2 linked regions of the Homo sapiens genome follow. The protein of the gene in region 1 interacts with the protein of each later gene in a pairwise test. Each region holds a gene or a part of one and is shown on either strand. Other genes may lie near its edges.

Region 1 (8,658 bases):
TTGTTTGTTTCTTCTCTCACTGCAATCAAAGCTCTATGAAGACAGAATCTCATTAGCACATACCAGACTCTCAATAAATATTTTTTGAGTGAATGAATGCATTATGCCAAGTTGTGAGGAAGCAAACAAATACAATCTTTTCCCAGCGCTTAAGCAGCTTATCTGAAAAACAGATTCATTTCAATGTCATGTGACATATTCTTCGGTAGAGATATTCCTGAAAATTTCAGTAGGAAGGGGAGCATTTAAAGAAGTTAGCTTATATGACGATCTCCCTCAGACGTAATTTGAAAACCATGGAATTAAAAGATCTACAAATCTATTTTCTTTCATATCTATATAATATATGTGTAAGTTCAGTGTACAAGATCATAGTAAAATAGGTAGGTTTGTGCAAAAATTTAACCTTAAGGTTTAGACCGTAAATAATGCTTTAGTATAAAGATTTATAATCAGATTAATCTGTACTTTTCTGTTGTTTATTCAGTAATCTGTAATATGTGGTGTATCCTATAAATAAATCACCATGTTTTCATTGGTATTTAAAGATACCAATAATCTTTAATATACAATTTTTTTTCTCTGAACAGAGCATGTGACCATCTGCGTTGTATAGCCTGTGATTTCTTGGTAGTCAGCTATGATGACTATATGTGGGACAAATCGTGTGATTATCTGTTTTTCAGGTATGTTGCTAAAGAACTTCACTCTGAAAAAAGTACCAAGTAGTTTATATTTCCTATTTTGATATATTCTCTCTGGGTGGATTCAGCCAGATCTTGTGGGCTTCACCTCTTCAGTATAGTCATGTGCTGCGTTATGATGCTTCAGTCAACGATGGACTGCATATATATATATACATGGTGGTTCCATAAGATTATGACGGAGTTGAAAAATTCCTATCACCTAGTGACATCATAGCCTTTGTAATATTATACTGCAATGCATTGCACATGTTTGTGGTGATGCTGGTATAAACAGTAACATGCTGTAGAGGTTTGTAGCCTTGGAACAGTAGCCTATACCATATAGCCTAGGTGTGTGGTAGGCTATACCATCTAGGTTTGTATAAATTCACTCTTTGATATTCCCACAATGATGGAATTGCCTAACAAAGCATAAGCAATGCATGACTGTGTTTCTGTCATCCATCTCCTTCTCTCCATCTGCCTGCTGTCAGCCTAGATAAGGACATGTTACTTCTGGACAAGAATACAGAAGTAACCTCCTCACTGGTTTTTCTGGCTACAATCTCTTCTCTCAGACCATCCTTCCCTTGTTCAGAATTAAAGCATAGCTCAGAGTATACCGTCCTCCTGCTCAACACCCTTCCACTTACAGAATAATGTCCAAATTCCTTAGCATGGCATTCATGACCCTCCATAATCCAGCTCCCATCCATCCATCATCCAGCTTTGTCTTCCCACAATGTATATTTCACCTTTGCAAGATTTTAGCTACATCAGAGTACTCAAGGCTCCCATTCCCTCTGACTTTGTACAACCTCTTTACCTCTTGGGATGCCTTCCCACCATTTTATCTACCTAAACCCTACCTGTCCTTCAGAGTATAATTCATCACATGTCTTCCATGATTCTTTCACCACTCTCTCAACTGGAAGAAAACTCTTCCCTTCCTGTGTATTCACGGTGCTTTGGACCTATTATATACTGTAATATAAAACTGAAGCTCTTAGGTTGGTGTATGACTACCTCCCTCCTTGTGGCTGAGATAATGTCTTGCTCATATTTATATAATTTGTACATTCTTATACACTTACAGAATACCTACTATCTTTAAGGTGTTACAAGTTATAAAAATATATTTGAACTTTACATTGACATTTTCAAATAAAAATTTAAAGCTAAAAATTAATACAGTGTAATATTGCAGCACTTTTCAATAGCATAAAGAAAAGGGTAAGAGACTTTCCCCTACGCCTTTTTTGGCAGCCATTCTTGGGTAAATCTATGAGTATACCCTAATTTAATAGTTTTTAAACTTTTTCACATCAAGAACCACTTTGCAAATCTTATGAAAGCTTTGAATGCCCCTCATACACATACAATTCAAATATAAAAATACATGGAAAAATTATAACTTGAAAAATTTTACAGTTTCCAACCCAAATAAAGCCTAATGTACTCCCAAAATCTGAGGTTAGGAACCCATACTTTTAGGCTTAGCCCACTTTTTACCCCATAAGTGGAAAAGTTGGCTTTTAATTACAGGTTGACTTTCCCTTTTCTGACTTTTCTAAACCCTCTGCTATTTACTGTCTACTAGTTAATCTAATAAGTGGTTAATAATCCCCATATGTCACCAAGATGAAGCATGAATTTTTATAAAACTATCATAGGATAATAAAATGCATGTAACATCAAGGCAGTGGTGAACACAGGCATAAAGTAAACTATGGATAACCTAGTCGGTACTTGAGGAACTTGCAGCATCTCAGAGTTATCAAGAACACCAGTTGGTTTACCCTAGATCTGTGGCAGCCTGGTTTAAAAAATATATGTACTTTTAGATAAAACAGTGACAACTAGAGGATTTATTATACTATTAAAAATAAACAAGTAGTCATTATTTAAATCAGTAGAAAATACTGTCTCAGTTCTCAAGACACTTAGGAATATGTTTGGGAGATAAGAGAATGGAACAGCTAAAGAATAAGGCGGTCTCCACCATTAGGATATAAATCACTGATAGATTTATTTTGTACAATATATTGGTGTTTACCAGTAGACATTATTCAGCACCTAGTCTATGACACTCTTAGATACTGGGCTCATAAGATGAGAGGAACCCAGGGGAAGGGAGACATGGGTGGGGACAAGCATGTGAGCAGCAAGGTCATAGAGACAATAGGGTCAAGAGCACTGATGGGAGGTGAGCCTTGGATAGGAAAAGGAAGACCTCTGTGACTGAGAGGAAGCCAGCAAGGTACTGATGTGTTCAGGGTGAGCTTGCCAGGAAATTGAAGGCTTTCATACCTGGCGACCTGGTTTTGAGAATGAAGATGTGATCTGCTGAAAATAAGGGAGTGGAGGAGGATGTGGAATAATCACTGAGGAAACCAGAAGTGGACAGTGACCAAAGACAAGTTAAATGTTACACAGTGGAATGCTGTGCAGTTGTTTTATTGTCCTATTTTACAGATGAGAGAAATAAATGTATCCTATCTTTGAGAAGTTTTAGAACTTTTTTTTTTTTTCTGAGCCAATCTTGCAAACCCTGTTACCCAGGCTAGAGTGCAGGACTGCAGTTTCAGCTCACTGCAACCTCCACTTCCCAGATTGAAAGGATCCTTCGGCCTCAGCCTCTCGAGCAGCTAGGAATACAGGTGCGCACTACCACATCCAGCTAATTTTGTAGAGATGGGGTCTCACCATGTTGCCCATGCTGGTCTCGAACTCCTGAGCTCAAGTGGTCCACCCACCTTGGCTCCCCAAAGTGCAGGGATTACAGGCATGACCCACCACACCCAGACAAGTTTTAGAACATTGTAAAAGAAGTGTCAGCTATACTTACTGACCACCTTGCCACAACAGCTGAAGAAAATGCTTTTATTTTTCTATTAAATCGTGTTTTCTTTAAGAATGGAATGATTTTTCCCTAAGCTTTTAAGATACGTGCATTTTAAAAACCATTTCAAATGTCATAATTAGATCCCTGCCTATTCATGATTCCTAATCCTAAAATCGCTAAGGATTCAGTCAAGTATCAAATGTTAAGTTTTCAAAATATTTTGCAGATCAAATAAAGGACATTTTTCCTCAACAACTTAGTTTTGGCGGGGTTTTTTTCTTTCTGTTAAAATTTAGATTATTCATTTCTTCCCTTAGCTAAGTCGTTTAGCTAGTCAGTCTGTTTCCTGAAGTCAGACAGTTGGCTTGGAAAATCTGTCAGGTTTTGTGAGGTTCTAACCTTCTAAATTGTGCCTGAATTTCGTACAGTTTAATACTGAATATGGTGCCCATTGACCACCAGAGGGCACTTTGTAGCCTGCCTTCTGTTGCAGTGATATCCACAAGCAATGGTTAGGTACCGTATCTCTTTTTCTGGTATTCATACTGTATTTCGTCCTTTCACTTTGTATTTTTTCATCTTTTTTAAAAATTTTTTCTACTTTTCTTTGCCATGGAATGTTTATATGAACTCATTACATGGATTATCATGAAATCATAATTGATGTTTTTATTAATTAAACTTCTGTAGTCTTTTTTATAATAGTATGAAATCCAGTGTTTATCATTTTTACGATGGCCCTACTTGTTGATTTAATTATTTCAACATTATTAATATTTATTTCAGGATAGACATTTTTGTTGCTGATAGTATGAATAAACAGATCATTGAAGCTAATGAAAATTTTCTATAGTTAATTCATCAGAAACCTATGATCTTTATGCCTCTAATGTTCTCTCAACTTGCCATATTACAGGCTTTTAAAATATGGCATAGGTGAGTATCTGAGGTAGGAAATGAACCACCATCCTTTCCACCCTATTTTCATATTATTTCATCTCTGATAGGGCGTTTGTAATTCTTCAGCCTTTAGGTTATTGTGTTCTTCAACATTCAATAAACTGGCCTAGAGGATTGCCATAAAAAGTACAGATTATCAAAGAAATACCATCAGAAAGAGAACACTGAAGCATATCTTCTAGTGTTAGTGTGAGGGGATCTAGGTTGTTTAGTGTTCAGATACGGGGAAGATAAGAAAATAGGCTGGGCACCATGGTTCATGCCTGCAATCTCAGCACTTTGGGAGGCTGAGGTGGATGGATCACTTGAGCCCAGGAGTTTGAGATCAACCTGGACAACATACTGAGACCTCATCTCTACAAAAAAAAATTTTTTAAGCCGGGCATAGTGGCACATGCCTGTGGTCTCAGCTACTTGGAAGGCTGAGGGGAAGCCTGGGAGGTCAAGGCTGCAGTGAGCCATGATTGTGCCACCGCAATCCAGCCTGAGTAACAATGAGACTCCTAAAAACAAAAAAAGAAAAGAAAAGAAAGCAATGACCTTTTTTTTTTTTTTTAATCATTAAGCACTGAACAAAGCCACTATGCTAAAACTTTCCTGTTTTACTAATAGGAACAACATGCCAGAATTTCACAAATTAAAAGCAAAGTTGATAAAGAAGAAAGGAACACGGGCATATGCCTGCCAGTGTAGCTGGAGAACTATTGAAGAAGTGACTGACCTTCAGACAGATCATCAGCTTCGCTGGGTTTGTGGTAAACATTAAGAATGCAGACTGCACATTCGGACAGATGCATCCATGAGAGTGGTCTCCATGAATCATCATCATGTTTAGACAATAGTCCCTAGCAATACCATTCCCTGTGGGAAAAGGCAGTGAATTTTATTGATACAACTACATACATTTTTGAAGACCAAATGGACTAAGGAAGATCATGTATTATAACACTTTGGAATTATTCCTGATACATGGATGTTTCACTTAGTAACAGGCATCTACATTCTTTACTAATCTGTCTTCTGTTTAATAGAGGTTTGATTATGGAGTTCCATACAAATATCTAGTTTTTCATTAGCAACTGCAATATTGATTGCTAATACGTTTAGCAAATCATTCCCCAACTTGTAGCAGTTAAAGTGGATAAAGCCGGCCAGGGCAAAGAGATCATTTAGGGGTGTCTACAACACTTCTTCCAGTCAGATCTTTTGTTGCCAAAGATCATAATTTGGACATGGCAGAAACCAGGTGATCAGTGGCTGACTGAAGGGTGTTCAGAAGTAGTTACAGGTATTTTGCAAAAACACTGCCTCATAGCTGATCTTACCTCATCAACTCAAAGCAATGTTATGCACAATATTAAATACATGTTACCAGTTTTAGCTTATTTTTCCCTCTTTTGTTCATTTAACTATCAAAAGTTATTTTCTATTTTGATTACCCAATAATATATAAAAAGAGTTTGATGCACCCAAAATCACAAAAATCCTAATACATACAGGTTATTGTTGGATTTTCCAAGTACTTTCTATCCTTTAATGCCTAAAACTCCATCAAGGGAAGTAAACAGCAAGTAATATAATTTTTCAGGCAGCCTGTGGACTTCTCTGGTAGGATCAGGTTGACATATCGTTTATTAGGTGAGTAAGTGAAAAGACAAGTAAAGCATAACTGAACCAACAGGTAACCTGTTGGGCTCCTTCCTGACATCACTGAGATCTGAGGAGCCCTACAATAGCAGCACATTCAGGAAATCAGGTCCCTCAAAATTTCTAGCTCCCAACCCCATTGAGAGATTTTGGGAGCTTTCCAATCTGCCACAAACTCCCTGCTACATATGTACTATATAGTTCAAATGTGTGATACAGAGCACCCTGAAAGGGAATAATTGAAACAAAGTTATAATCTTCTTAGTCTTATGCTAAATTTATTCCAGCCACCCTACTGAAGGGAGGAAGATCTGATCATTAGAATCCTTTTCCTAGCCATGACACATTTACATACTTGTAAAATTTATTGTAGTAAGTCTAGCATTGCAACAGAATAGATCTTATAATGGCCAATCCTCACACTTTTGTATTAAGGATATTATGACAGACTAAGCATGGTAGCTCACGCCTGTAATCCCAGCACTTTGGGAGGCTGAGGCAGGCAGATCAGCTGAGGTCAGGAGTTCAAGACCAGCCTGGCCAACATGATAAAACACCATCTCTACTAAAAATACAAAAATTAGCTGGGCGCGGTGGTGCATGCCTGTAATCCCAACTACTCGGGAGGCCGAGGCAGGAAAATTTATTGAACCTGGGAGGCAGAGGTTGTAGTGAGCCAAGGTCGCGCCACTGCGCTCCAGCCTGGACAACACAGTGAGACTCTGTCTCAAAAAAAAAAAAAAGACATTATGACAGATTTTATCTTTTAATAAAAATGTATTATATCCCTAAAGTTATATCTATATGTAATTGAGTCAGAAACCTAGGGGGATGTCGATTGAAGTCGACTGCTGGAAAAAAATAGCAGAGCAACAAGATCCACACATTTAGAACCTCATAGAATTTGACACATTATTCATAATGGTGCAATTCTTTCTTTTTTATTCCAGTAAGCAAATTTACTAAATCACTAATTTGAAAAAAAAAATTTTTTTTTTGAGATGGAGTGTCACTCTGTTGCCGGGCTGGAGTGCAGTGGCACGATCTCTGCTCACTGCAACCTCCGCCTCGCAGCTTCAAGTGATTGTCCTGCCTCAGCCTCCCCAGTAGCTGGGATTACAGGCACACACCACCACGCCCAGCTAATTTTTGTATTTTTAATAGAGACAGGGTTTCACCATGTTGGCCAGAATGATGTCGATCTCCTGAACTCGTGATCCGCCCGCCTCAGCCTCCCAAAGTAGCCTACATTGCCTCTACTTTGAAGGGACAAAGTTGTCCTGGTTTTTTTTTCCCTTTTATTATTTCATTATAACTATCCTAAAACTTACATACATTGCCTATGTTTGGCATTCCATAACATAATAATTATAATAATCCCCCAATGTCAGAAATGTATGTGTGAGTTCCCATGTTTATTGGCAATTTATAAGCTTTTTAATATTGTACTATTTTAAACTAAAATGTAGAAAGAATATTATGTTTATATACAGTCAGATAAATTATTAACTGTTGTAATTTAAGCTGAAAATGAAACTATTTTAGTATCAGTATAGAAGAAAAGTATAGTTTCTAATCATCTATAATTTTAAAATGCAAAGCCTATAAAACTTTCAAGATGTTTTGCCTGTTTGTTTTTAAGATTTATAATAATTTTCTATCTTTAGCAAGTAGCTATTTTTAAGCCAGGTAACTTCTTTATTTGAACTGTATTATACTCTCAGACCCTCATCCTGCCTAGAAATGAATAAGTAATAAATAATTACTCTGTATTATTTACTTCTTTTATTTTATAGTAAAATATTCATTTGGATGGACATTAATTTGAAATCATTTTGATGTTTTTTTTTTTTGAGACAGAGTCTCTCTCTGTTGCCCAGACTAGAGTGCAGTGGTGCAATCATAGCTCACTGCTTCCTTGAACTCCTGAGCTAAAGCGATCCTCCCACCTCAGCCTCCCAAAGTGCTGGGATTACAGGTGTGAAGCACCATGCCCAGTCAAAAAAAATTTTTTTAATGTCAACAGAAAAGTTTCCAAGCATCCAGTTAAACAGATAATTTGTCTACACTGGGGAGGAGAAGTATGCCATAACTCTGATGTGTGTGTGTGTGTGTGTGTGTGTGTGTGTGTGTGTGTGTACATGCATGTGTAAAGAGAGTATGTGTGTGCATGCATGTGTAAAGTACCATGGGTATTCAAAGGAACAGGTCCAAGTTTAGGAAGAACAGGCCATGCTGACTTGGCGGTGTATACCTAGAACCTGTTCGTTGATGTCAGTAAACTTAGTACCTTTTTTTCTTAGGCCAGAGAATATGTCATCAGACTATGAATCTGAATTGCTTTCTCTCTTTTTCTTACTGATATTTAAGAATATGAAAGAAAAAGGTCTTTGTATCCAAAAGCATTGTGATGAAGCTTAGCCATGAATTTCAAATGCTGATATTTCTAATGTTTTAACAAAATCTCTATCAGCCAACCTAATGCTCCCAGTAATCAGCAATATCTCTTGTATAAAATAG
Region 2 (6,957 bases), on another chromosome or scaffold:
TGATCCGCCTGCCTCAGCATCCCAAAGTGCTAGGATTACAGGTGTGAGCCACCACGCCCGGCCTGTATTTTTTTTTTTTTTTTTTTGGTAGAGAAAGGGTCTCACTATGTTGCCCAGGCTGGTCTCGAGCTCCTGGGCTGAAGTGAACCACCCACCTCGGCCTCCCAAAGTGCTGGGATTACAGGGTGTAATCCCACTGAGCCACCACTTAGGAAGCATAAGACACTAGCTTATGCTTTCTAATACATGAAATTAAGCCACGTTTATAAGTAAAATTATAGCTTAAAAAAATAAGTAGGTATTCATAAGATTGAGATTCAAGTGACAAAGGTTGTGAGTAAAGTCAGGCTTCCATGGCAAACACAGTATTCTACAATAAATATTTCCACAAATGTAGTTTTCTTTATCAGACATTTTTATTTTCACATTTACATTCAACAGTTCTTAGAATTGTTAAAAATAGCCCTTTCGGGCGGGGTGCGGTGGCTCACGCCTGTAATCCCAGCACTTTGGGAGGCCAAGATGGGCGGATCACTTGAGGTTGGGAGTTTGAGACCAGCCTGACCAACATGGTGAAACCCTGTCTTTACTAAAAAAAAAAAAAAAAAAAAAAAAAATTAACTGGCCGTGGTGGTGCACGCCTGTAATCCCAACTATTTGGGAGGCCGAGGCAGCAGAACTGCTTGAACCCAGGGGGCAGGGGGCAGAGGTTGCAGTGAGCCGAGATCGTGCCACTGCACTCCAGCCTGGGCAACAGGAGTGAAACTCCATCTCAAAAAAAAAAAAAAAAAAGCCCTTTCGATATTATAGGAAAGGTATTTGCCTTTTGTATTGAATAAACTAAGATAGAAACTCAATTTTATGATGGCAACATCAAAAAATACAGTTTAAACAGAATTTCATGGTAATTTACCCATAAACATTTGCTGGCCTTTTCCTGATTTAAGAAGTTGTAATTGCTACGTTAGTGCTGTGCCCTCTCAAAATATCAAAAGATTTTTCCAGTATTTTCAAGGTTCCTCATTATACTGATATTTTGGTTGCCTTGGCTTTGTTGTCTTTTCTAGCCAAGAATAAATTTGAAATAAGGGGCTGGCTTTTTGCTTCCATAGTGCTTATGGGATCCAGCTGGGGGCTGTTCTGATTCACGTTCACTGCACCCTTTTTCACCGAGTCTCCTCATTTTCTTTCTCTCCAGTGGCATGGTTGCTCTCTGATATTTGGCGTTGTAGATCATTTAAAACAACACTTGCTGACCGACCACACTAATCCCAACTTCCAGACTCTGAAATGTCGCTGGAAGAACTGCGATGCTTTTTTCACTGCTAGGAAAGGATCCAAACAGGTACATTAGTGGGACTTGAGGTTTGCCTGGGATTCAGTAGACTGCTCAGAGCAGGGGCTAGCAAACCTTTTTTATTATTGAGAATTGCCATATATAGGGAGGGCCTAGGGTTTTTTATTTTTATGATTCAGAGATTTGGGGGGTAGCTTAATGAAGTTGCAAATGAAGAATTAGGTCATTTTTGAGAAAGGGCCTAAAGAGAATGTTTTCAGATGTTTCAAATCCAGTAACTGAACCTGGAGATTTATTACAGTGCTCTTGTGCTGAGACAACAGCTCACCTTTAAGTACATGGTTTCACGTAAGTTAGCAAAGTGCTGGCTCCTAACTGCCTTTCCTGTCTGGATCCTAGGTGGAATGGACCCACATGGCTTTCCTTGGCTTTGACTTTCTCCTGTCTTACTATCGACTTCTCTCTCATGGGCCCTTTTCCCTTCATTCCTAGGATGCTGCAGGACATATTGAACGACATGCTGAAGATGACAGCAAAATTGATTCATGAAGTTTTTTGCCTCCCACGTTGGGAAGTCATTAGTTGAACTATTTTCACATTGGCCCCCCACACAGGCCACTCTCTTCCCTTTCTTGGTGAAGTAAGGAAGGAGAAAGTGGTTACTAGCCAGGCATACCCCTAGCATAAGTCTGGGCAGCTCTATGGGATGATAAATTACACTTTTAAGTTCTTGCTGGAGGTTTTAAATAGATTTAGACAAATGTTAAGGAACCATACTTCTCTGGGACAGCATGGCATATAGTGATATATGCTATTTGCGTTCTCCAGATGTTTATTGAAGATACAGATCCTAATTGGTTACCCAGTTTGACCCTAATCATATGTATATTTTATTGATTTCAGTTTGCAATTTTTAATTTATGTTCTTATGATGGTTTAAACCTATAGTCAGGCTTTTAAGTACAAGTTTGTTTAAGTGCCAGACTTTGAGGATCAGTTTTAATTTCTCCATTTGTAATAGCTGGGTATTTAAACTGGAAGCAAATAGTTTTCTTTCTTAACAATTATGTGCAGTGTGTGTCACTGTTTTCTTGCTTTATAGATAGAGCTGGCTTTAAGTGCTAAAGGACACAGTAGATTTTTGACAAACAGTGGCTGCTCTGCTGACTATCTTTTAGGAATTCAGGAAGCAAATCACATAGTGACAAGTCCTTACAGACACCACTTCTAGTAAATCTCTGTAAATGTGGATAGAAAGCTCAGTGTGAGGCAGTGCGTAGACCTAACGTCTACCTTTACATCTGCTGTTGAACCTGGGCACTACCTGTTACAGATCCTGTCAGGCTGTTGAACTGGAGGTGTACCTTTATCTTCCTTTCTAGTGTCTGACCCTGCAAGCCTAATGTTGGTTTGAACCCTTTTGGTTTGTTCAGTTGCCAGCCTCCATCTCTCCCACTGTATGGCCGTGCCTAGACCGATGGCAGCCATCGAATATTCCTCTGGGCTCACGGGGTGTTTTCCACCCCCCTGCAGCAACTAAGATGGTGGGGGAGAGGGGGTTAGAATAAAGCATCTGAATACAGTTTTCAGGACCTCAAGCAGACTTCCTAGAGACTTGTTTCTGAGACAGTTCTTTGCCTTCACTTCCCTGCTAGCTGGGAAAGAAGAGTGGAGCAGAGACTCTGCCTGGCCACTGAGAACAGCCAAATTCACAAACCCTCAGTGGGGCTTTGTTTTTGGATTTTCTCCGGACTCATCAGTAAACCTGTAGAAGTGTCGCTTTCCAGCCTTTTGTTTCTGGATCCTCAAAACTCAGAACGTGGCCGGGCGTGGTGGCTCACGCCTGTAATCCCAGCACTTTGGGAGGCTGAGGCAGGCAGATCACCTGAGGCTAGGAGTTGCAGACCAGCCTGGCCAACATGGCAAAACCCCGTCTCTACTAAAAATACAAAAAGCCGGGCGTGGTGGGCGCCTGTAATCCCAGCTGCTCAGGAGGCTGAGGCAGGAGAATCGCTTGAACCCGGGAGGCAGAGATTGCAGTAAGCTGAGATCGTGCCACTGCACTCCAGCCTGGTGACAGAGTGAGACTCCGTCTCAAAAAAAAAAAAAAAAACTCAGCTTCTTCAGAGAGATAAAATTGGGGGAGGAGCCCAGGGCCACATACCAAGCTTTGGGACATGGTGCCTCATGCTCTCTGGGATTGCAGACCATCCAGGTCTGTCTTCGCCCCTGTTAGTGCACATATATCCACTCACATGTCTTCCCTCAGGCTATCGGGCAGGGGGACTTCACCAGGGGGTTTATGGATAGGCTTCAAGAGGGTCTGTGAGCCCCCAGAAATTGTGTGTGAGACTGAGTATGTGTTCTTTTTTCCAGGAAAGGCTCCAGTGGTTCTTACTTGATCCAAAAAATGTCAAGAATTAATCTAGGAGGCCGGGCCTGGTGGCTCACACCTGTAATCCCAGCTCTTTGGGAGGCCGAGGCGGGTGGATCACTCAAGGTCAGGCATTTGAGACCAGCCTGGCCAACATAGTGAAACCCCGTCTCTATTAAAAATACAAAAATTAGCTGGGTGTGGTGGTATGTGCCTGTAGTCTCAGCTACTCAGGAGGCTGAGACAGGAGAATCACTTGAACCCTGGAGGTAGAAGTTGCAGTGAGCCAAGATCATACTACTGCACTCCAGCCTGGGCGACAAGAGTGAAACTCCACCTCAAAAAAAAAAAAAAAAGAGTTAATCTAGGAGATAATGAATGGCCTAGTACTAGATAATATATGGCCCCACAAGCTCTTGACTTCTGTCCTTGGGGAAAGCCATTTTGTTAACCACACTAGTGAGATTTACATGATGCTTAATGGAGAACAGAGAAGATCTTGTTGCAAAAGGTGTATTAAATATTTGTGCTGTTTCTGTATGAGATTGAGAAGCTTTTCCCACCTCTCACCCCTATTTCCTATAAGGATATCCAGAGAAGCCAAACTGTTCTGTGGGTTTGGGAATGGTCATTTCCCGGGAAAATGCATCTGGATCGATGACTAAACCTGGCCCTTTTCTCTGGGCTGTAGTGAAGCCGCATTTTCACGCTGGCTGGCAGTGTGCTGAGAGCCTCGAATGCTCTGCGGCGTAGTGCCCTTCTGCCCTGCCTGACGATGTATCGAAAAGATGAGAGTGAAGGAGACTTTGTGCAGCAGGAAACGGGTAGGTGAGGTGTTGGGCAGTTGTGGGAACTTCTGAGAGTATTACAGAGTGGTAGAATCGGTAAGAACTCTGATTTGGACTTCGCTTTGGTGGAACTGTGTGCCTATACCTGCCTGTGTGTGTGCAAGTGTGCAGGTTCCTTTGTATGTATGTGTACGTGTGGGAACCTGTGTTTGTCATATTTTTCTTCATTTCACAAAGGCTTTTTTTGAAGCAGTGGCAGTATGCCTTTGTTTCAAGAACACATGAAATTCTTTTAACACCAGATTAGTGTGTTACCCCAAATGAACGGTTCTAGCCCTCTATTAAGAAATAAAGGGACCATAAGCATTTTGGCTGCTTATGGCTGTGTGTTACTACTTACAAGAGTCTTGAAAATTATACAGAACTTTGCCTTCTTTTTTTAATGTCTTCCACAATGTTGTGACTGATTATAACCCTGTTTCCCCTCAGAGAAGAGCTATGGCTCAGGGATCTGTGTTGACTCTGGCATTTAGTGGCTTTGTGAAGGAAAGAAACCATTAAATGACCTGACAAAAACTGACTCATGTCTTTAAAGTAGTTGAAGCCACTTTTAGAATGTTACTCTCGGTTGCTTTTGTCTAATTCTAATGGCTTAAAGCCAAGAAAACCATAGTATAAATCTTTTTGTGTACCTATGCTAGTGTTTAAATGGCAGTTCGTTGTGATAAAGTATCAGTCACTTCAAGTTTTCTGTGAAAGTTTTTAATTAGGTTAAAAATAATTTTGGCATACGTCTCTACTCAGTTTATAAAGCAGTTCCACACCATGCAAACAAAACTCTAACAGCAAAGGTTATCTTGACCTGATGTTACTTGAATCTGAGAGAAAGTCATTACTTACTACTGCACTCCTGCTTTTGTGGGAAAAATTTTCTTCTTCCCCAGAAGAGTTAACAGTTGAGTGTTCAGCTCCTGACTTACCTTTAATTTAGAGGCAATATTATTACTGTTTAAGTGATTATTTGCTTAACACAGGTTTTATTTTGTCTTTTTGCTGGTAGATTATACAAGGGACAACTTTAGTGATGAGGCATGTGGATGATTTGGTGGGAGTAGGTATATACTTAGTGGAATGGTTTATTTTATGGAAGAGAATTCATTGGAGGTGAGATTGAAGTATATTGTGAAGTGGGATTTGAACAGCACATATGCTCTGGTTTGCTCAAATAACTGCAGTTTATGCTTACATCTAAATTTTGTTTCTGTTACCTAAACGGGAGCTTCTAGAATTACGAAGGCCATACCTGCCACATTTATAAAATAATGGTTTTATCCCTGCCCCCAAATCATCAGGTTCCTCGGGTTTAAGAGAAGTGGTCTAATAGACAGGAATAGAAGTTGTGGTGGAGGTGATTTGGGATAGACTAGGTTTCCTTATGCAAGTGGATATGAGCTCCTCATAGAAACCAGACCTACTGTATTAGACAGTAACCTCTAACCTCACCTCCAAGCCCAAGTATATGGCCCTGCTGGGTTACCTGGTGACTACATTTCCCAGATTCACTCTAAATTCAAGGTAGTGACCCAAATAAATTGGGAAAGGAGGGGGTCAAGGAGGAAAAGCTGTTGAAAATCTTTCTCCTATTTAAGAGAAATATATGCCCTAGAGCTGCTCCAGCACCCTTGGTTTCTGATTTTTTTAATATTGAATATGGATTAGAAGAATGAAATCAGATGACACCTGACTGCAAAAATGTTTATAAGCAAATAGCCTTCTTACATTTTGGTATAAAGCTGTGAACTTCGTAACTTTGTAAAGCAAGATATAAAGCAAATACAAGAGGAAAATAAAGTACTTTTACTAATTGACGGTTTACTTTCGTTACCTTGTCTGCATATTCACGGCCAGCCCTTTCCACGTTGGCTTAGCGAGGAAGAAGGAAACTGGGTGGAAAACACAGGATGCCTATAGATATGCCGCAGGCCATGGTCCAGAGAAGTTTAGCAAACAAACAGCTGCGTTCAGGGTTTTGTCCACGGTCATGCGACAGGTCAGTTAGTGAGCAGAGGAGCTAGGATAGCTCAATCTCCACTCCATTATTCAGGTAACCGGCCCCTCCCGTTGTACATGACCCATTTATTCTTGATGTCTTTTACAGCAACAACTATTCCTCTGCCTTCCTTTTATGTCTTGGAAAGTATCTGAGCCATTCTTATGCTCAAGAAATAGCAATAGGCATGATTACAAAATTCAAGATTTTGTTTTTGTGTGTGTTTTTCATTGTTCTCTTGTAGGTGATAGGTGAGTATATGATTGGAAGCCATTCAGTCATGCATGGCTGATATCTAAATGTGAGACAACAAAACACAAGGGGACCAGCCATACACATGCCTTTATTTAGATCAGCTTTTTTCAAAATGCAGCCAAACTTATGAGTTGGACAGCCCAAAGTAACCAGCCCTATTCCACTGAGTTAGTTTACCCCACAGCAGTAGAAC

What was found. The genes of interacting proteins can lie anywhere in the genome.
Region 2: the proteins of CFAP418 (region 1) and ZNF106 interact in a two-hybrid assay, tested with the Homo sapiens proteins (one study listed by IntAct).

What each region holds. Positions count from the first base shown.
Region 1 is NC_000008.11:95,244,216-95,252,873, reverse strand, and holds the end of CFAP418 (cilia- and flagella-associated protein 418), read left to right. Parts: intron 1-590; coding exon 591-686; intron 687-5,103; coding exon 5,104-5,257; 3' UTR 5,258-7,961; downstream 7,962-8,658. UniProt on the Homo sapiens protein: May be involved in photoreceptor outer segment disk morphogenesis.
Region 2 is NC_000015.10:42,412,193-42,419,149, reverse strand, and holds the end of ZNF106 (zinc finger protein 106), read left to right. Parts: intron 1-1,198; coding exon 1,199-1,345; intron 1,346-1,696; coding exon of another isoform or gene 1,697-1,789; coding exon 1,790-1,846; 3' UTR 1,847-6,327; downstream 6,328-6,957. UniProt on the Homo sapiens protein: RNA-binding protein. Specifically binds to 5'-GGGGCC-3' sequence repeats in RNA. Essential for maintenance of peripheral motor neuron and skeletal muscle function.